3 linked regions of the Homo sapiens genome follow. The main gene of each other region encodes a partner of the protein of the gene in region 3 in a complex. Each region holds a gene or a part of one and is shown on either strand. Other genes may lie near its edges. A codon is read from its position in the direction of its gene.

Region 1 (7,029 bases), on a different chromosome or scaffold from region 3:
CTGAGTCCTGAAGCAAAGGAGGCGGTCTTTTACATACAGACTATCTGGATCAAAGAAATGTGATTGTACATAACTAGCCCTGTCCCAAAGAGAAAGAGACACACAGGAAGGAGAGTTTTGGTTATCAGTGGCTCAGCATTGCCCACCTTTTAACCCAGAGTCCTGTCTACCTTCAAAATGCAGAAAATCTCCAAGTAAATTTGAGACAAAGGAAGGTTGGAGAAGACATATCTGAGGAAATAGGGCCAGGAGCATTGGAAAAGTCCAGTCATCCCCACCTTGTTTGTGTTTTCTCAATTTCTAATCACTCCTCCCTCCACTTGCCATCTCCTAACTGTCCTTATTTTCCTCATGTCTCCATGCCAGGGACAACTTTTGCGGCCAGACTGAGATGCATGCAGCACAACTGCTTCCAGTGTCTCTAACACATTCAGGCTTGTCCTCCCCAGGCAGCAAGACCTACTTGGTGAGAGGCAGTGTATCTGGACACATGACACACTGTATATATATACATATATATATATATACATATACATGTATATATATACATATATATATATATACATATACATGTATATATATACATATATATATACACACATATACATGTATATATATACATATATATATATATAGACATATACATGTATATATATACATATATATATATATATACATATACATGTATATATATAAAGGCAATTCTAAAAACAGGAGAGATGGAGTGTCTCTACCTAGCATAGGGTTCATTTGGGCTCTTTGCCCTGTTCTTTCTCTGTGCATATCGCTGTCTTTGGTCTAAACAAATTCAGGATTTTTGCTTCTTGGCTATAGAAAGTTTATATTCTCTTTCCGACTGAAACTACCCTGCTTCCTAGTCCAGGCTGAGCTATACCTATGGCTGCTCTCTCCTGCATTGAGATAAATCTCCAATCACTCAGTTCTCACTTGCTTTGCAAAATTCTTTTTCCTGGTCTTTTGCTTTCTGCTACATACCTACATCACCTTCTGTGTATTTTCAGCTCACCAGGACAAAAATTTTAGTAATCCACAAAGAGTCAACCCCTCAAATATAGCTACAGTTGTTAAATATATATATTCAGAAGTGCTCATTAGAGTCTACCCTTTCTGTTGCACAAAAAGGAGGTTTACTTTCTTCAACAGCAGATTTCTATATTTACTGTGTACCTCGAATCAGTCCTCTTCCTAACCCTAGTTTTCCCTTGGCCACCACAACACAGAATGGCAGGCCCACAACACTAAATGGAGCCTCAGAGAGTATTTACTTCAGCCTGATACCCAATCCAGACATCCTTCTGCAGAGTGTCTGACAGGCAGTCAGACAGCTGACACATTATTCCCATGGGCCCATATAGACAGCACACAGAAGAGGGTGCAGGCCAGCAGGGCTGTCTGTGTTGCCCAAATACAACAAAAATGGACTCAGAAATGGACTTGGAGCACAATTTTCCTCCTTTTGAGCAATAGAGTTTACCTTGAACATCCCACTAAAAAACCCTGATACTTTTTGTAAATTACCAAAAAATTTCACAAAAGCACAGGCTTACTCATGCCAAGCACTCTTTCAAAGTTTGTGTGAGAAAATCCACAGCTCCCTGGACAAATGCTCTTGTGCTCATTAAACCCCATCTGTGGCCTCCTGGTCTCATGTCTAATTTCTACCTGGGTGTTTAGGAGCCTACACCTGCTGGAACCCAGAGCGTGGCATCGTCCCTGAGTAGCATGGCTTCGTTTCCAGCACCATCACCCCTTGATGCAATTCTCTCTCATCCCCTTCTGAGGAGAATCACCTGTAGTAGTTTTTGCTGGAGGATGGTGATGTCTCGAGAATGAGTGCGGTTGCCACCACGAAACTTAAGGGGGCGGTAGACGCAGCACGTAGTAAAGCAGATCATGTAGAGCAGGTACAAGGCAGCCAGGATGCAGAAGTACGGCCGGCCATACTTGTTCCACTTGAAGCTCACCAGCTCCTTCACTGGGGTCTGTTCCAGAATTTGGCGAGCCTGGCATGGAAGTAGAGTGAAACTTGGGGTGACCAACACAGAAGGATGTTGTTTATCCCACTGGGGGCCAGAAGAGGCAGGGCAGCAACCATCACTCACTCAGCTCATCAGTCACTTATTTGACGGACAAATAGTATATTTCCTGCATATGGCTGGGCCTTGTGCTAGTGATACAGGTAAATGACTATAGCAGTAAACACAAGGCACCATAGCACCAAAGAGGATTTAAAGGATGAGTAGTAGTTAGATGAGTAAAGGGAGAGTTAGGAAAGATCATACCATAAGCTAACAGCAGTTGCCAGGTCAGGAAGGTCTGAGAAGCCATTGCCCATTTGCAGTTGAGATGTGGTTGGGGAGAGGGGAGAATCTATTGGGAGTGGTAGTCAGAAATGATAATGACTGAGGAAGAACAGGGCCAGGTCATCATGCATCATAAATGCCAAGGTAGGAAGTTTGCATTTTTTGTTTTTTCTAAATATAACAGAAAGCAACTGGGGAGTTCAAGCAGGGAAGTGGTCAGATTTGCTCTAGAAGTATTATTGGGCTGGAAAGAAGCAATGGAGGTTACAGGCAGTAGGATGTGGCAGGGTGGGATGGTGCTCTGAAATAAGCAGCCAGTGAGACGTTAAAGATACACAGGAGAGGGGATGATGGACGGGAGGAGGCATCTGAGAAATTAGAAAGAGACAGATTCAAAGCACAGTAGAGTGATTAGCCATTAACAGCATGAATATCTTTTCTACTGAAGCTGGAGGGGAGGAGAGAGACAGTGGGCAGTTTCCAGACATGCTCGGCAGTGTAGGGCAGGAAGCTGAAGGATCCCCAGCCAGAAAGCCTCTATTTTTGTCCTAAATCAGGAGTCTAGGTCTTCTGAACTGCAGCTGAAGGTAGTGAAGGATGTGAAAGGGGGCTAGAAAGGAAGATTTATGGAGGAAAAAAGCAACTGACCCAAGACACTTATGAAACCTGCTGGAGAATATTGAGAATAGCTTAAATCAAAGACCAAGGATATGTGGTGGCGAAATCCACACAGTGGGATTGTGCTTTTAATACCTAAGAAATCCTGCTCAAAGTGTATCTGTTTCCAGGGATATTCTCTGAGGAAGATCTCACAAACTAGCCACTCAACTTTTCTTCTATTCGTTAGTATTAATAATCATTCATGTTTTCTGGATCTATAAGGATTCCTGGGAAATTGTCACTGTGGCAGATACAAAACAGAAACTACATCTTGGCACTCTCATGGAACGTTCTGAAACCTGGAAGTCTTTTCTCCTCTCTACTGCAGTCTTCAACAAATTTTCGTTTCCCTCACATCACTCAACCCAGCATTGTTGAATGGTCTATACGTTGCTCCCTCTCTAAAAAGCTCTTTTTTTTCTCTCATCTTCCTGTGACTCCCAATTCTTCCTTGAAGATCCAGCCCCAGCATTTCCTCTGTGACATCTTCTCTGGTCTATCCAAGCCAAGTTAACTCTACCTCAATGTGGCTGTCTGCATGCATGGTACACACAACTATTACGGCATATGTCATGCTCTGTTGCAATTATTCAGGACAGGGACTGAGAATTGAGGAAGTTGATGAACAGGAACTGTGTTGTATTTATTTCTGTACTGTTTGTTTCTTGTGCAGTGCCTGACATACAGCGGGTGTTCAATATGCTTGTATTAGTCCATTCTCATATTACTATAAAGAACTACCTGGCACAGGGTAATTTATAAATAAAAAGGTTTAATTGGCTCATGGTTCTGCAGGCTGTACAGGTTCTGGAGAGGCCTGAGGAAACGTACAATCATGGCAAAAGGCCAAGAAGAAAGCAGGCACATCCTACATGGCCGGAGCAGGAGGAAGAGAGAGCAGGAGGAAGAGAGAGCAGGGGGAGGTGCCACACACTTTTAAACAACCGGATCTTGTGAAAACTCACTATCACGAGAACATCAAGAGGGAAGTCTGTCCCCATGATCCAATCACCTCCCACCAGGCCCCTTCTCCAACACTGTGGATTACAATTTGACATGAAATTTTTGCATTTGGACACAAATGCAAACCATATCAATGCTGAACCAATGAATGAATATGAGGAAACAGCTCTTATTTGGAGTTTCTCATCTGAAATGATAGAAGGCGAAAGGTAGGCAGAAGGGACTGGAGCTAAGCAGAGAGACAGGGGATTCAGGAGAGGAGTGTGCATTGGACTTTCCCCCATGTCCCAGGAGACTATTCTCATCTCCACCTATTATAAGGCTGGGAAGTGTCTCAGGCCCAGGATCTTAGTAAGTGGACAGACTCTGCACAAACACTAAATTCCCTCACATGACAGGCCTGATCCTCCTTGGCATCCATACCTCTCGTTTATCAGAGGAGACCACAAGCTCCAGGAAGGACAGCTCCTCTCCCCAGGAGTCGATCTCCGTGAGGTCGTAGAGAATGGAGGTCAGGGGTCCATACGTCCACTGGATGTGCCTCCGCTTCTGCATCAGGTGCTGGAACATCTGAGAGACCACCAGGATGAGTCAGGGGGCCAACGTGTGAGAAGGTGGTCGAGGAGAACAACTCCATTGGATGGAGCCAGTTGCCCACCCCTTGAGACAGACAGACAGTGGGAACCAGCAAACCTCTGCATCTACAAGCTTTCCCTTTTTTGTCATCTTTCCTGCTCCAAAACCCCAGAAAGTGCAGAAAGAAGAAAATAGGCAAAGGAAGCTAGAGCTTTGGGTTATCACAGCACATGCATTAAGGTAAGGTTCTCAAATCCTCTTGAGTCAAGGACCATGAAGCTGAAGATTTCAGTGATGGAATAGGAAGCAAGGGACCACCATCCCTTTGGGGAGTTTGGGGAAAAGGGATTTTAGAGAAAGGTGGGCCCTTCACCTCTATTTCTCCCAGGGCCAGCAGGATAGGTTGAGGGTCATTAGAAAGACACCTCAGGGATGGGGAGCGTCTCTTACCACAGTGTTACCCTCCACTCCAGCCAGCTTGAAGGGGGTGAGACCCTGGTGATTGGGCACAAGGTCCAGGGGCTGCAGGTGGTCCCCATGTCCATCATAGGACAGCAGCAGGTTGTACATCTGGCAGGCAAAGGTTTTGTTGGGCTGGAGGATGAGGATGTGTAATACTGTGTTTCCTGGGGAGGACGCAGGGTATCATGTGGCCACTGGCCTAAAGTCCCTGATGTCCCCATCCCCACTCTGGGGTCTTCCTAAAGGTCCCAGCTCCACTCCTTACCCTGTCCCTCGCTCCCCACAGCATCCCAGCTCCCCTCCCCATCCCAGCTCTTACCCAGGGAGTCCTGGGCCCTGATGTCAGCTCCATGCTCAATGAGCAGCCGCACGATCTCCTCGCTGTTCACACAGGCAGCAAAGGACAAAGGGTGCTCCCCTGTGGACACAGAGAGATCCATGGCAGGAGAACGCAGGATGGCAGGATGGGGTGGGCAGTCTCCCCCAAATAAGGGCCTCCTCCTCATCCCCCATATCTCAGTTCTAGGCTGAGGGACACTCGTCCAGCAGAACCAGAGGAAGGAACCATCAGGGGAATGGGCCTCTGGCTTAATTAAGCCCTAGAAGGGCTGCCCCTCTCAACTGCCCAACAGATGGAGCTGAAGGCAGGACCCTCATGCCCTGGCCTCCCTCTGCCTTGCCCGCCTCTCCAGCCAACCATCCTTCAAGCCCAACCCTGCTCTCACCAAAGTAGATGAGGTTGCGGGGACTATGGCGGAAGGCAGTGCCTGTGGCTCTGGCAGAGACACTGGCCCTGCGGGTGAGCAGGGCACGCACCAGGTTCACATTCTGGTTCACAACAGCGATGTGCAGTGCAGTCTGACCTGGCCCAGAGACAGCCATCATCAGGGTCTCCCTCTGTCCCCAGTTCTCTCAGGGACACAGCATCCCCCACCATCCCTCTCAGGAGGTTCCTGATAGATCTTTGCTAGACTTCTGCCCTGGGCTTGGCAGGGTGGCCTGGGACTAAGAGCAATTCATCCCTCAGGCTGCCCTGCTCATTGACCTACCCTTCAGTTATTGGGAGCCAGCAGGGGATTGCTATGAATATAATCATTCTCATGTTGCTATGAGAGAAAGAAATTGAGATAGGTCCTACAGGGACTATGGGAGGTTTGAAAGGAAATGCTGAAGGAAGCCACAGATTGGTAAAAGCCAAGACCAGGACCTTTGCATTTCTCCCAACTCAACGGAGCCCATCCTCCTGACCCTCCATCACCCCACCCCAACCCATCCTTCAGAGGCCAATTTTAAGAGACAACAGCACACCCTCCATCTCAAAGTTTCCACCTTGAATTACCATGTAGGCTCCTTACCTGCAAAAGCCTCACATGTGGTGGGCTCAAAGACCAGCTCTGGGGCAGCCTCCATCAGCACCAAGGCCGCCTCCAAGTTGTCATAGAGGGCTGCTATGTGCAGCGCCGTCTCCCCCAGGGCTCCTGGATTGGAGTAAGACAGAGATGTTAGACACTTTTCAGATTCCCTTGAGGAAGGGGCCTCAGGCTCCAGAGACACCCTCCAAGGCCCTATTTCACAAACTCGAAGTCTTGGGGAGGAGGAGTAGGTTCTTCTGCCCCCACCTCCATCCCATTAAATCCAGATCCCACCTCTTTGTCGAACGTCACAGGTGCAGTCCAGTAGAAGTTGCCTAAGAACAGACAGGTCATTTTCCTTGGATGCTCGAAGCAGTGGAGACTCTAGAATCCTGGGGAAAGGTGAACGTGAGTTTGGAAGAGACAGTCATAGCAGAATGAGGCCAAGAGCAAAGGGGATCTAAGACATTCTTTAAGACCAACGTGACTCACACAGCGTGCAGTGACAAATTGGAAAGAAGTGCCTACTGGACTCGAATGACCGAGGGTGGACTTGGGCAAGGGTCAGCCCCAGGGCCTTCCTTGCAATTCACATCATGGTGATTCTCCTGTGAGGATGGCCCTTGAAGCTCTGCTGGAGGGGAAGAGTTAATAGGAAGAGAACCTGTAGTCTGGAAAGAGTGGTCTGAGAG
Region 2 (6,992 bases), on a different chromosome or scaffold from region 3:
TTCAAGTGTTTCTCGTGCCTCAGCCTCTTGAGTAGCTGGGATTACAGGCGTGTGCCACCATGGCCGACTAATTTTTGTATTTTTAGTGGAGACGGGGTTTCACCATGTTGGCCAGGCTGGTCTCAAAATCCTGACCTCAAGTGATCTGCCTGCCTTGGCCTCCCAAAGTGCTGGGATTATAGGCATGAGCCACTGCGCCCAGCCTACAATTTTTTTTTTTTTAAAGATTGGGGTCTTGGGCCAGGCGCCCAAGTGGAGAAACCCCGTCTCTACTAAAAATACAAAATTAGCCGGGCATGGTGGCGCATGCCTGTAATCCCAGGTACTTGAGAGGCTGAGGCAAGAGATTCGCTTGAACCCGGGAGACGGAGGTGGCAGTGAGCCAAGATCGCGCCATTGCGCTCCAGCCTGGGCAACAAGAGCAAAACTCCGTCTCATAAAAAAAAAAAAAAAAGATGGGGGTCTTGCTATGTTACCCAGACTGGACTCGAACTCCTGGGCTTAAGTGATCCTCCTGCCTCAGCCTCCCCAGTATCTGGACTACAGGCTCGTGCCAGTGCACCTGGCTACCATTCTACTTTATAATAATTTTTACTAATGGCCTCTCAAAGTCCTGAGACTTCAGCCATCTGTGTTGCCAGCCATTAGGAGCAGGCACCAGCACACTGTGGCCTGCAGGTGGATTGGATGTGAGGGTCCCTCAGGGGAAGAGGTGGGTCTGTTTTCCAGATTGAGCACATGGGGTGGCCATTCCTGGGGGCCTGGACAGATGGCAGGAACAGATTTTGGGGAGCCGTCACAAGTGTGGGTTTAGACACAGGGTTCAGGTGCCTTTAGGACATCCAGGGGGCCAAGGCCCAGGCCCGTTAGGAGCAGCAGCAGGGGAAACCCTGGGCCTCCACACCCTGGTTGAGGTGGGACAGGCTGCTGACCACTCCCTCGTGTGTCCCCATAGCTCTCAACAGCCTGACGGGCGAGTTCAAAGGGAAGTACTACCCTCTGAAGAGCATGACGGAGAAGGAGCAGCAGCAGCTCATCGATGACCACTTCCTGTTCGACAAGCCCGTGTCCCCGCTGCTGCTGGCCTCAGGCATGGCCCGCGACTGGCCCGACGCCCGTGGCATCTGGTGAGGCCCCTCCCCGCCCCCTGGCTTCCTCTTCCCCCAGCCTCCTCCAGTCCTGCAACGGCCCTCCTCACTCCTCCACCAAAACCAAGGCCATATACGTAATTATGATCTTCTAAATGCCACGGAAAATGATCTTGCCCTCCGCCCCTGCCCATCCTGTGGTCTGTGTGTCAGATTTTGGGATATCTGGACCGGAGAAGTGGTAGTTAAAAACTTAAGACTTGGCGGGGCACGGTGGCTCATGCCTGTAATCCCTGCACTTTGCGAGGCCAAGGCGGGGGGATCACTTGAGGTCAGGAGTTTGAGACCAGCCTGGCCAACACGGTGTCTACTAAAAATGACAAAAATTTAGCTGGGCGTAGTGGCAGGCGCCTGTAGTCCCAGCTACTTGGGAAGATGATGCAGGAGAATCGCTTGAACCCAGGTGGCGGAGGTTGCAGTGAGCCGAGATCGTGCCACTGCACTCCAGCCTGGGCGACAGAGCCAGACTGTCTCAAAAAAAAACAAACAAAAAAGAAAGAACTTAGACTTGGCCGGGCACAGTGGCTCACACCTGTAATCCCAGCACTTTGGGAGGCTGCAGCAGGAGGGTCGCTTGTGCCCAGGAGTTCTAGACCAGCCTGGGCAACATAGGGAGACCACGTCGCTACAAAAATTAAAAAAAAAAAAAGCCAGGCGCGGTGGCTCACGCCTGTAATCCCAGCACTTTGGGAGGCCAAGGTGGGCGGATCACGAGGTCAGGAGATTGACACCATCCTGGCTAACACGGTGAAACCCCGTCTCTACTAAAACTACAAAAAAAAAAAAAAAATTAGCCCGGCGTCGTGGCAGGCGCCTGTAGTCCCAGCTACTTGGGAGGCTGAGGCAGGAGAATGGCCTGAACCCAAGAGGCGGAGCTTGCAGTGAGCTGAGATCGTGCCACTGCACTCCAGCCTGGGCGACAGGAGACTCCGTCTCAAAAAAAAAAAAAAAAAAAAAAAAAAAAAAAAGCCAGGCGTGATGGCGTATACCTGTGGTCCCAGCTACTCGAGAGGCTGAGGATCAGCTGGGCCCAGAGGATTGAGGTTACTGTGAATCATGACCGAGGTACTGCACTCCAGCTACCTGTCTCAAAAATAAGAACTCAGACTTGAACCGTACTCCCTAGGTTCAAATCCCAGCTCTACCATTTACTAACTTTACTAGCTTTGTGACCTTGGGCAACTTATTTTATTTTTCTCTACCCCAGTTTCCTAGCTATAGGATAGGGATCACAATAATTTGTAGTTTCTGGTGTTCTTGTGAGGATTAAATGAGTTAATTTATGTAAAGTATTAAAAGCAGTGCCTGGGCCAGGCGCGGTGGCTCACGCCTGTAATCCCAGCACTTTGGGAGGCCAAGGCGGGCGGATCACGAGGTCAGGAGATCGAGACCATCCTGGCTAACATGGTGAAACCCCGTCTCTACTAAAAATACAAAAAATTAGCTGGGCTTGGTGGCAGGCGCCTGTAGTCCTACTTACTCGTGAGGCTGAGGCAGGAGAATGGCGTGAACCCGGGAGGCGGAGCTTGAAGTGAGCCAAGATCGCATCACTGCACTCCAGCCTGGGCGACAGACCAAGACTCTGTCTCAAAAAAAAAAAAAAAAAAAAAAGCAGTGCCTGGTATACACTAAGTGTTCAGTACATCTTGGTTATTCGTCTTATCTTTATTATAAAGTATTATTGCTAGACTTGTTTTGACTCTTTGAATCCCTGATTCAGATAGTCAAAGATTTAGAGAACCTAGGTTTCAATCGATGAAGGGAGCCTGGGTGCTAAGATATACAGATGGGATGATTCTAAGATTTCAAGATTTTAAATATTTTTAGGTTTTAAGATTCCACTCATTTATTTATTTATTTATTTTGAGATGGACTCTCACTCTGAGGCCCAGGCTGGAGTGCAGTGGGTTGATCTCGACTCACTGAAACCTCCATCTCCCGGGTTCAAACGATCCTCTCACCCTCCGCCTCCTTAGTAGCTAGGACGACAGGCATGTGCCACTGTGCCCAGCTAGTTTTCGTATTTTTGGTAGAGACAGCGTTCTGCCATGTTGCTCAGGCTGGTCTCGAACTCTTCACCTTAAGTGATCCGCCCACCTCAGCCTCCCAAAGTGCTGGGATTACAAGCGTGAGCCACCATGCCTGCCCTCAGGTTTTTTTTTTTTTTTTTTTGAGACAGGGTCTTGCTCTGTTGCCCAGGCTGGAGTGCAGTGGTGGGATCATAGCTCGCTGCAGCCTGGACCTTCCAAGGTCAAGTGATCCTCCCGCCTCAGCCTCCCCAGTGGCTTGGACTACAGGCATGTGTCCCACCATGCCTGCTAATTTTTTAAATTTTGTAGATATGTGGGTCTTGCCATGTTGCCCAGGGTAGTCTTGAACTCCTGGGCTCAAGCAATCCTCCGGCCTTGGCCTCCCAAAGTGCTGGGATTACAGGCATGAGCCACCACACCCGGCCATTTCCGGATCTTAATATTTTATGTTCTTTTTTTTTTTTTTTTTTGAGATGGAGTCTCGCTCTGTTGCCCAGGCTGGAGTGCAGTGGCGCGATCTCGACTCACTGCAAGCTCCACCTCCCGGGTTCTCGCCATTCTCTTGCCTCAGCCTCCTGAGTAGCTGGGACTACAGATGCCCGCCACCATGCCCAGATTTTTTTTTGTATTTTTTAGTAGAGACAGGGTTTCGACGTGTTAGCCAGGATGGTGTCGATCTCCTGACCTTGTGATCCGCCCGCCTCGGCCTCCCAAAGTGCTGGGATTACAGGCGTGAGCCACCGCACCCAGCCTTAATATTTTATGTTCTAAGATCCTGCTTCTGAGATGCTAGGATTGGGAGCTAACACACTACGATGGGAAGATTTTCTGGTCCTGAAACCAGATGTAGGATTACCAAGTGTTATCAGTTCTGATCCCAAGCTTCTGTTTGTCAAACATCCTGAGATCCCAAGGATCTATAATAATACTGTTCAAAGACTTAAGTCCCTAAAAGTCCTTGATCCCAGGATTCAGCGTTTTGCAGATCCTGTGACATTAGAGTCTACAGGTTTAAGCTTCTGCGTTTTGAGGAGGCAGATGCCACCCACCTCCCACCCCTCAGGCCCTCTTCCCCCATCGGTGGGCAGATGTTTTGGGGGAGGGCTGGGAATGGGGTTCCCACGGGGCTGACACCTTGGCCTCTTGCTGCGGCACCTTACTCTAGGCACAATGACAACAAGAGCTTCCTGGTGTGGGTGAACGAGGAGGATCACCTCCGGGTCATCTCCATGGAGAAGGGGGGCAACATGAAGGAGGTTTTCCGCCGCTTCTGCGTAGGGCTGCAGAAGGTGGGTGTCTGCCCTTAGCTGCTGACTTCTGACTCCACCTTGAACGCCCCACCTGCTTTCCGAGGCCCCGCCCCTTCCCCTATACTAAGCCCTGCCCCACCCATTTTCCAGGGCCCTGCCCCCCGGACCTGGCTCCACCCCATGCCAAACCCCGCCCCCCAAAACTAGCCCCACCCGCTTTTCAGGGCCCCGCCCCTGGACCCAGCTCCACCCTATGCCCAAGCCCCGCCCGTAAGGATCCGCCTTCAGGCCGGGAGCGGTGGCTCACGCCTGTAATCCCAGCACTTTGGGAGGCTGAGGAGGGTCAGGAGTTCAAGACCAGCCTGGCCAACATGGTGAAACCCCGTCTCTATACTAAAAAATTAATAAATAAATAAATTATCCAGGCGTAGTGGCGCGCGCCTGTAGTCCCAGCTACTCGGGAGGCTGAGGCAGGAGAATCGCTTGAACCTGGGAGGCAGAGGTTGCAGTGAGACGAGATCACGCCATTGCACTCCAGCCTGGGTGACACAGAGAGACTCTGGAAAAAAAAAAAAAAAAAACCCGCCTTCAAAGCGTTCTTAGTCCCCGCCCCTCAAAATCCTGCCTTGGTCCCCATTGTCTAGCCAGCACCCTCGGAATCTCCTACCTCCCTGTTCCCCTCAGAATCCCACCTCCACCACGTTCCCACGCCCTGTCCCTCCGGACCCTGTCCATGTTGCGGGTGCATTTGGGGGTGCCTGCCGGCGCTGACCCCTGGTCCTCTCTCTGAACCTCAGATTGAGGAGATCTTTAAGAAAGCTGGCCACCCCTTCATGTGGAACCAGCACCTGGGCTACGTGCTCACCTGCCCATCCAACCTGGGCACTGGGCTGCGTGGAGGCGTGCATGTGAAGCTGGCGCACCTGAGCAAGCACCCCAAGTTCGAGGAGATCCTCACCCGCCTGCGTCTGCAGAAGAGGGGTACAGGTACGGCTCCCACATCCTTTGCACCACGACGGAGGGGGAGCGAGGGCCCTTTGCAGGGATGCAAGGAGAGGTGCGACATCCCTGCGAGTTCTGGGGATCCGGCAAGGGCTGACCCTCTGTGAGCTTGCATTTCTTCCTCTGTAAAATGGGTGTCAATATGCCTATGTGATAGGAGTCAATGTGGGATTTTCATGATTATATAATATGCATTGCACATGCCCTTGGACCTCCCTCGGGGCCTCAGTTTCCCCATTTATAAAGCGAGGAGTGGTCAGGATTCGACCCTAGGCCGCCTGGCTCCAGAACCCACTCTCTTACCCACTATACTATGTTTGATAACTGAGTGGCGTGGTACCCCATCTGAAGTCAGAGACTCGTGAGCTCACGAATGAACAGGCATTACCTGTGTGCAGGTAACCTGTTACACAGTAGGCACTCACTACATGCGGCTGTTGCATTTGGCACGGGGGCCACGTCCCAGCCCCTCTGCACCTTCGCTGCCTCTTCACGCCCCTGTCCCTTGCTCCCACAGGTGGCGTGGACACAGCTGCCGTGGGCTCAGTATTTGACGTGTCCAACGCTGATCGGCTGGGCTCGTCCGAAGTAGAACAGGTGCAGCTGGTGGTGGATGGTGTGAAGCTCATGGTGGAAATGGAGAAGAAGTTGGAGAAAGGCCAGTCCATTGACGACATGATCCCCGCCCAGAAGTAGGCGCCTGCCCACCTGCCACCGACTGCTGGAACCCAGCCAGTGGGAGGGCCTGGCCCACCAGAGTCCTGCTCCCTCACTCCTCGCCCCGCCCCCTGTCCCAGAGTCCCACCTGGGGGCTCTCTCCACCCTTCTCAGAGTTCCAGTTTCAACCAGAGTTCCAACCAATGGGCTCCATCCTCTGGATTCTGGCCAATGAAATATCTCCCTGGCAGGGTCCTCTTCTTTTCCCAGAGCTCCACCCCAACCAGGAGCTCTAGTTAATGGAGAGCTCCCAGCACACTCGGAGCTTGTGCTTTGTCTCCACGCAAAGCGATAAATAAAAGCATTGGTGGCCTTAGCTTTGTGCGATAGTTATTGAGGGAGGACGTGCAATTGGCCACTGTGTGGTCTCAGAGTGGTTTGTCCTGTCTAGGCATGTACTAAACATGTCTTATCCCGGGTCTAAAATGAGGCAAAGTTAGGTCACAGAATCTAGTCCAAAAATTAGAAGGCTCTATGGGGAATCTGAGACCCAGAGAGACACTGAGCCCAGTGTCACTCACCCAAAGCATGGGCCCTTTCCAACTATGGCTTTGAATTAGTCATGCTCAGATCTCAAACACGAGGTCCACGCTGGGGAGGAATGCAGCCAAACGAAATGTCTGAAACTTGAATTTAGCCCAACGGTCTCCAGTTTTGAGACCTCCCATGCAGCTCGTCACATCTACCTATATTCTGCTTCTCAGTGGCCTCCTTCTGTCCCGTCTGACTTCATCCCTCTGTAGCTGCTGCCAGTCCCTTACTTTCTCAAGAACCTGCCATGGCTCCCCATTTCTCCTAGAAAGCTTTTCTGTTATTTTGCAACTCAAGGCCACACTGAAATGCAT
Region 3 (6,957 bases):
ATACGGTTTTATTTTCTGCATTTTACTTATTCTAGCAAACATTTTAAGTGTTATTAGATTTTTAAATTTCTCGAAAGTTATACATAGTCTTACACTATGCATCTTCCAGTATTTAGCTTTTTGTTAAATCATGTAATAGAAAGGTGATTACTGCTAATTAAACATTGGGAATTTATGCACCTAATGGTGGTGTTAAAAGATACCCATAGCAGAGAATGTAATATAAACAAATACCTCAAAGTCCTTTAATTTTCTTGTAACCTAAATTAGGTGAAAGGTGCAATGTGTCTGAACTCCAATATATGTATTTCTAGATATTTCTACATTCTGTTTAAAAACAGTAAAATTGAAATGTCTTTATCAATTGTGCTATTTGTAGGTGGAGACTCCCTGATCTATTTTTGTCATTAGGTTGATCTAGGTTAGCACTGTATACTATCTTCATAAAATCAATTAGTGTGGTATGAACCTTCTGATTGGTATTAGATGAGTTCCTCTATAAACCAGTAATATTTAAATAAGAAAGAATGCAGTTAGGAGGCAATTGTAATAGCCCTGGCAAAGGACGATGGAGCCTTGAACCAAAATACTGGTTGTAGAGATGGAGGAAAAATCAGGCAGTATTTAAATGATAGAATTCGAGACCTGTTGACAGATTTCAGACTGAAAGAGTTAAAAGTGGCTCTTGGGCTTTTGCTAGTACCTTTAGGGTTGCCTGGGAGTATAGAATTCATTTTCATATGTTTTGCTTGTCATCAGCCAGGGGAGCTATATCCTGTAGACAGCCAGAAATAAAGACATTTATTGAGCGAGATGGGTAGACTAAAGATATCTTCGTTGTAAGTGGGTATAGATGAAGTGGCCAAGGAGTGGAAAAAAAGGATAAAATTGGTCACATCTAGACATAAGAGACAGGAGTAAGAGCCTTTGGCAGTATATGGTAGGAGGAAAATCAAAGTACTGTTACGAAGGCCAAGAAAAATTTTGAGAGTTTTTCCATGCAGTTTTGGATGCTGCAAAAAAATGAGATAGTCTTTATCTTGACATTTATTAAGTATGTATTTGTTGGACATAGTTCTAAGTGTTTGACACATACTAATTTTTTTATGGGGGGTGACCAGGTGAATACCCCTTGTGGGCATGGTATACTGTGTCACCCCACTTACTGGGCACATTTATGTCATTTCACAGAAATGAGGAAGCTGAGGCAGAAAAGGTTTAGTAGCTTGTCCATATTGCATTGCCAGAAGAAGAAACAGAGCTAGGAAATTCTAACCCAGTAGTCAAGTTACAAAGTCTCATTTTAGTTTCTATGCCATATGGCTTCACATTGAAGCATGCTTGATGGATTGGGTGACTGACTAGTAGTCATTGGTAAACTCAGCATTTTCAGGTGATGAGTTGGAGCTGGATGTCATTTTAAAATAGTGGATTGTTTGGAGAGAGGAAATTGGTATGAGTAGTAGTGCCTTCCAAAATTTGGGGAGGGATAAGGGCAAGCATTTAAAATATAACTAAGGTTTCAATTTAGTTTTAGGCTAAGCGATGTGAAGATATTTATGTGGTAATGGGCAAATTAGTGGAAGAATAGTTGAGTCCAGGGAAGAGGTAATACGGAATGAAACTGGAAGGTGTACGCGAATTGGAGTTAGGGATAAGCAGGCAGGGAATAAATTGGCCTTGGACCGTAAAGAAGGTACACCATTTCTTACACATGTGTCACATAAATTTTCAAATGTATGGCTATGTTGGGAAAGCTTAATGGCCCAATGAACTTGGAAACTTTTTGTATTCATTTGCTGATAGGGTCTAATATTTTCTGGGAAATGACTTACTTGGAAAATACTAGCTTTATTATTTACTGATTGGTATAACTTTGCAGTATCAAAGTTAGTCTGTTTTAGTTTCTTTCTTTCTTTTTTTTTTTTTGAGACAAGTCTCACTCTGTTGCCCAAGCTGGAGTGCAGTGGTGTGATCTCGGCTCACTGCAACCTCCGCCTCTCGGGTTCAAGCAGTTCTGCTGCTGCAGCCTCCCCAGTAGCTGGGACTACAGGCGCACGCCGCCACACCCAGCTTGTGTGTGTGTTTGTGTTTTAATAGAGACGGGGGACTACAGGCCCACGCTGCCACACCCAGCGTGTGTGTGTGTGTGTGTGTGTGTGTGTGTGTGTGTGTGTTTTAGTAGAGACGGGGGACTACAGGCACACGCCGCCACACCCAGCTTGTGTGTGTGTGTGTTTTAGTAGAGACGGGGTTTCTTTTCTTTTTCTTCTTTTTTTTTTTTTTTGAGACGGAGTCTCGCTCTGTCGCCCAGGCTGGAGTGCAGTGGCGCAATATCAGCTCACTGCAAGCTCTGCCTCCCAGGTTCACGCCATTCTCCTGCCTCAGCCTCCCGAGTAGCTGGGACTATAGGCGCCCGCCACCACGCCCGGCTAATTTTTTTGTATTTTTAGTAGAGATGGGGTTTCACCGTGTTAGCCAGGATGGTCTCGATCTCCTGACCTCATGATCCACCCGCCTCAGCCTCCCAAAGTGCTGGGATTACAGGCTTGAGCCACCGCGCCCGGCCTGAGACGGGGTTTCACCCTGTTGTTCAGGCTGGTCTGGAACTCACCCTGAGCTCAGGCAGTCTGCCCACCTTGGCCTCCCAAAGTGCTAGGATTACAGGTGTGAGCCACTGCACCTGGCTTGTTTTAGTTTATCTGTAAATGGTGAATGAAGCCAGGTAGTCTGGAGTGTTGCACCAGCAGGAGGTTTCCATGTAATCTAGTGATGTATTAGAAGGAACATATAGCCGGGCACAGTGGCTCATGCCCTGTAATCCCAGCACTTTGGGAGGCAGAGACAGGCGGATCACCTGAGGTTGGGAGTTCGAGGCCAGCCTGACCAACGTGGAGAAACCCCATCTCTACTAAAAATAGAAAATTAGCTGGGCGTGGTGGTGCATGCCTGTAATTCCAGCTACTCGGGAGGCTGAGGCAGGAGAATTGCTTGATCCTGGGAGGAGGAGGTTGCGGTGGGCTGAGATTGCACCATTGCACTCCAGCCTGGACAACAAGAGCGAAAGTCCATCTCAAAAAAAAAAACAACAGCAGGAAGGAACATACTATCACAACAAGATGTTGAGGAATAATCAGTTTCACTATATAAGGTTGGGGTTTTAATATTCCAAAGAAAGCTCAAAATGATCTTTGTTCTCAGTGACATGCATTTAGCTAAAACTGGACATTTATATCTTGATCAGCCCATTGTTATAGACTCTTTATATAGTCCCTTCTCCTGCCTTACTAGAAAGGGAAAGTAGCCTGTTTTAATTTAGTAGGTGATTGATTTAGACATAGTGGCTAACTCTAAACACAGTATACAGAAACAGTTTAATTACTCTGTAGAAATACGTATTTGGGTACCAGTAGTCTTATTTTTGTTTTGTGAGTGTAGGTTAGGTCTGTAATTTTGAATTATGTTCCACAGAGCAGCTTCAGTGACAGAGGAGCCAGTCATTTGGGGATTTGGTTCTTTTCCTCTGTAAACCTAGGATAATTTTACTTAGGTCAGCATGAAAGTACAGTGGTATGATTGGTCAAAGATATATTTGAAATATTATCATAAGGTATCATAAAGATTGGTTAATCTTTAGGAGTCAAAGTCACATTTCAATTGCTACCTCCATTGGTATTTTTCCGTTAAAAGTTTTTGGGTTTTTCTGAGACGTGGGGTCTTACAGTTTGGCCAGGCTGAAGTGCAGTGGCTGTTCACTGGCACGATCCCACCACTGAGTAGGCTTTAAGAGTTAATACGTTTCATTTAGGTTACATTTTATTATTAATCTGTGTATTTGGATTGTGGTCTTTCTTTCAAACAGAATTCAAAGAAGCTTTTTCACTATTTGACAAAGATGGTGATGGAACTATAACAACAAAGGAATTGGGAACTGTAATGAGATCTCTTGGGCAGAATCCCACAGAAGCAGAGTTACAGGACATGATTAATGAAGTAGATGCTGATGGTAAGTCTTCAATTTTGTGGGGCTGGGAGGGGTTGAAGAAGTGATACTTAGATGTTTCCACTAAACCTTTGCTGTTTGCTTATATGTTTCCACTAAAGCTTTGATGTTTCCACTAAACCATTTCAGGTAATGGCACAATTGACTTCCCTGAATTTCTGACAATGATGGCAAGAAAAATGAAAGACACAGACAGTGAAGAAGAAATTAGAGAAGCATTCCGTGTGTTTGATAAGGTACGTCAAGGACTGGATATGTTAAATTTTGAGGATGAAATGAAGATACCAGGACTCATTATGAAGACTTGTGTTTTTTTGGTTGTTTTTTTTTTTTTTTTTTTTTTTTTTTTTGATGATTTACCAACATATTTTAATTACCAAGCAAAAGCTTTTTAAGAATTCAGTATAGACTTTCTAATATATGTATTGCGTTCATCTTGTCAAAGGAGGTGTCACTTGACTTTGGGACTAGGAAATAATGATTTCAATGTAGGACATTTTGCTTGGCTCTTAATGACATTTGTAGGTCAACTGTGTAGATTTGTATGCATTTCTAAAGTATGTTTTTCCCCCAATGTGAAATTTAGTAGTAAACTTAATAAATTTCCATTCCAACTCTCAAGTCTGTAATTTGACTCAGAAACTATACTAAATTTTTTGCTAGGATGGCAATGGCTATATTAGTGCTGCAGAACTTCGCCATGTGATGACAAACCTTGGAGAGAAGTTAACAGATGAAGAAGTTGATGAAATGATCAGGGAAGCAGATATTGATGGTGATGGTCAAGTAAACTATGAAGGTAAATGTTTCAGTCTCACGCCTCATTCTTCACTTTGATTTTTAAGATAAGAGGCTCTTTGTTAGGGAACTGATCGAAATTAGTGACCCTTCCCCTGAAATTAGGTTGCTAAAACAGTTACTTACATTTAACCTTCTTAAAATTCAGAGTGTTGTCTGCAGACTAGGTAACATTGCTCTGACTTGAGAACTTAATTTAGAAATATTTACTATCAGGTTCTATCCCTACACCTGGAATCAGCATTTTAATAGGATTCTTGGGTGATTCATGTATAAAGTTTGAGAAGCACTGTTCAGTGTTTGTGTGATTGTGGAACAATGTGGAAAGCAAACTTATTCCAAGTTTCCTAAAATGAAATTAATGTGACTTTCTTTCCCCGCACTGTATTGTCTTTTTTCTTTAATTGGCTTTAGTCTGAAACTGAAGTTTACATGTGCTTCAAAAGTATCGTATCTACTAACTTTTAAGATGGCCATATCAGGAAGCAAGGCATATGAAACTGAAGGATTTTGAGTAAAACTCTGTATTTTTTTCATGATGTAACTACTTAACTTAGAAAAGAGCATAAAATGTAATGTTATAAAAATTAAACCTAGCCCATAGCATTGAATTTACAATATTGTCTTGTAATCCAGCAGACTTAAAATTCAAGTCTAAACTAAGAGCCAAGAATGCTCTTTTTTATATTGGCCTATCTAAAGCGTTAATTTGGCTCTTACTAATAAACCTGAATAGTTATGGTTAATGAAGTTCCAGCCTGGGCAATAAACTAGCTTCCCTCTGTACTTAATGGTAATTCTGAGGAAAGAGAGGAATGGAAAGAGTACTCAGTAATTGAGTAAATGTGATTTTTTTTTTTTTTTTTTTTTTTTGGTCTTTTGCTATTGACTCATTTTTTGTGTACTTCTTCTTTTTCAGAGTTTGTACAAATGATGACAGCAAAGTGAAGACCTTGTACAGAATGTGTTAAATTTCTTGTACAAAATTGTTTATTTGCCTTTTCTTTGTTTGTAACTTATCTGTAAAAGGTTTCTCCCTACTGTCAAAAAAATATGCATGTATAGTAATTAGGACTTCATTCCTCCATGTTTTCTTCCCTTATCTTACTGTCATTGTCCTAAAACCTTATTTTAGAAAATTGATCAAGTAACATGTTGCATGTGGCTTACTCTGGATATATCTAAGCCCTTCTGCACATCTAAACTTAGATGGAGTTGGTCAAATGAGGGAACATCTGGGTTATGCCTTTTTTAAAGTAGTTTTCTTTAGGAACTGTCAGCATGTTGTTGTTGAAGTGTGGAGTTGTAACTCTGCGTGGACTATGGACAGTCAACAATATGTACTTAAAAGTTGCACTATTGCAAAACGGGTGTATTATCCAGGTACTCGTACACTATTTTTTTGTACTGCTGGTCCTGTACCAGAAACATTTTCTTTTATTGTTACTTGCTTTTTAAACTTTGTTTAGCCACTTAAAATCTGCTTATGGCACAATTTGCCTCAAAATCCATTCCAAGTTGTATATTTGTTTTCCAATAAAAAAATTACAATTTACCCAATGGTTGCTCTGCATCTGAGTCATTTAACTGTTGAAGTCTAATAATTTTGAAAATAAAATATGGCATTGGTTTCTGCTTGGTATAGTCTAGATAATTTTTTCTCGTGTGGGGAAGCATATGGAGATGGGTGGCAGAAATAGTGAAGGTGGGAAAGGAAGGAGAAAAGGATTGGAAAAGTGAGAAAAGAGGGAGAGAAGCACAGAAAATAAGAGGAACAAAATAAGGGGTGTAACTAAGGAGAGATTGAAGAGGAAGGCCGAAAAGATGGGGATCTATGGGGGCTGGCTTAGTGTAGTCACCTTTTGGGGGCCACCATCATGCGTGCCCACAACATTCCTCCACCACCATGTGTGTCGTACTGTGCTACTGTGTTAGATCCAGGATACCTGTGAGTTGCCTCTGCCCACAGAACAAGATGGTGGCAGTCATGGGAAAAGAGGGGCAAGTTTTTTGTTTTGTTTCTTTATCCAGATTGTATTTGACAACTTCAAAAGGCCCCAATGAAAGACTCAAAAACTTAAGTGTACCTAGTATGGGAATTGGCATAAAGTAGGTATTTACTGTTTCCTACCTTTATAGTTTTCAACTTTGGCATT

What was found. The genes of interacting proteins can lie anywhere in the genome.
Region 1: the proteins of CALM2 (region 3) and TRPV5 are in contact, whole or in part, in an NMR structure (PDB 5OEO), measured with the Homo sapiens proteins. Residues at the interface, in NP_001734.1 of Homo sapiens: Lys22 (codon at 3,892), Asp23 (codon at 3,895), Ala89 (codon at 4,219), Val92 (codon at 4,228), Phe93 (codon at 4,231), Ile101 (codon at 4,682), Ala104 (codon at 4,691), Leu106 (codon at 4,697), Arg107 (codon at 4,700), Val109 (codon at 4,706), Leu113 (codon at 4,718), Gly114 (codon at 4,721), Glu115 (codon at 4,724), Leu117 (codon at 4,730), Asp119 (codon at 4,736), Glu120 (codon at 4,739), Glu121 (codon at 4,742), Asp123 (codon at 4,748), Glu124 (codon at 4,751), Met125 (codon at 4,754), Ile126 (codon at 4,757), Glu128 (codon at 4,763), Ala129 (codon at 4,766), Val137 (codon at 4,790), Phe142 (codon at 5,723), Met145 (codon at 5,732), Met146 (codon at 5,735); in NP_062815.3 of Homo sapiens: Thr675, Ala682, Pro684, Ser686, Ser687, Leu688, Ser689, Arg690, Thr691, Gln694, Ser696, Ser697, His698, Gly700, Trp701, Ile703, Leu704, Arg705, Asn707, Thr708, Leu718.
Region 2: the proteins of CALM2 (region 3) and CKM are in contact, whole or in part, in a crystal structure (PDB 7BF2), measured with the Homo sapiens proteins. Residues at the interface, in NP_001734.1 of Homo sapiens: Glu85 (codon at 4,207), Ile86 (codon at 4,210), Ala89 (codon at 4,219), Val92 (codon at 4,228), Phe93 (codon at 4,231), Met110 (codon at 4,709), Asn112 (codon at 4,715), Leu113 (codon at 4,718), Gly114 (codon at 4,721), Glu115 (codon at 4,724), Leu117 (codon at 4,730), Met125 (codon at 4,754), Glu128 (codon at 4,763), Ala129 (codon at 4,766), Phe142 (codon at 5,723), Met145 (codon at 5,732), Met146 (codon at 5,735); in NP_001815.2 of Homo sapiens: Pro306 (codon at 5,364), Phe308 (codon at 5,370), Glu310 (codon at 5,376), Ile311 (codon at 5,379), Leu312 (codon at 5,382), Arg314 (codon at 5,388), Leu315 (codon at 5,391), Arg316 (codon at 5,394), Gln318 (codon at 5,400).

Annotation. Positions count from the first base shown.
Region 1 is NC_000007.14:142,923,718-142,930,746, forward strand, and holds part of TRPV5 (transient receptor potential cation channel subfamily V member 5), read right to left. Parts: intron 6,730-7,029; coding exon 6,632-6,729; intron 6,464-6,631; coding exon 6,341-6,463; intron 5,849-6,340; coding exon 5,711-5,848; intron 5,404-5,710; coding exon 5,305-5,403; intron 5,150-5,304; coding exon 4,974-5,149; intron 4,518-4,973; coding exon 4,371-4,517; intron 2,025-4,370; coding exon 1,812-2,024; intron 1-1,811. UniProt on the Homo sapiens protein: Constitutively active calcium selective cation channel thought to be involved in Ca(2+) reabsorption in kidney and intestine. Required for normal Ca(2+) reabsorption in the kidney distal convoluted tubules.
Region 2 is NC_000019.10:45,305,884-45,312,875, reverse strand, and holds the end of CKM (creatine kinase M-type), read left to right. Parts: intron 1-955; coding exon 956-1,127; intron 1,128-4,343; coding exon 4,344-4,467; intron 4,468-5,225; coding exon 5,226-5,415; intron 5,416-5,947; coding exon 5,948-6,126; 3' UTR 6,127-6,463; downstream 6,464-6,992. UniProt on the Homo sapiens protein: Reversibly catalyzes the transfer of phosphate between ATP and various phosphogens (e.g. creatine phosphate).
Region 3 is NC_000002.12:47,159,568-47,166,524, reverse strand, and holds the end of CALM2 (calmodulin-2), read left to right. Parts: intron 1-3,862; coding exon 3,863-4,006; intron 4,007-4,132; coding exon 4,133-4,239; intron 4,240-4,666; coding exon 4,667-4,802; intron 4,803-5,720; coding exon 5,721-5,749; 3' UTR 5,750-6,441; downstream 6,442-6,957. UniProt on the Homo sapiens protein: Calmodulin acts as part of a calcium signal transduction pathway by mediating the control of a large number of enzymes, ion channels, aquaporins and other proteins through calcium-binding. Calcium-binding is required for the activation of calmodulin.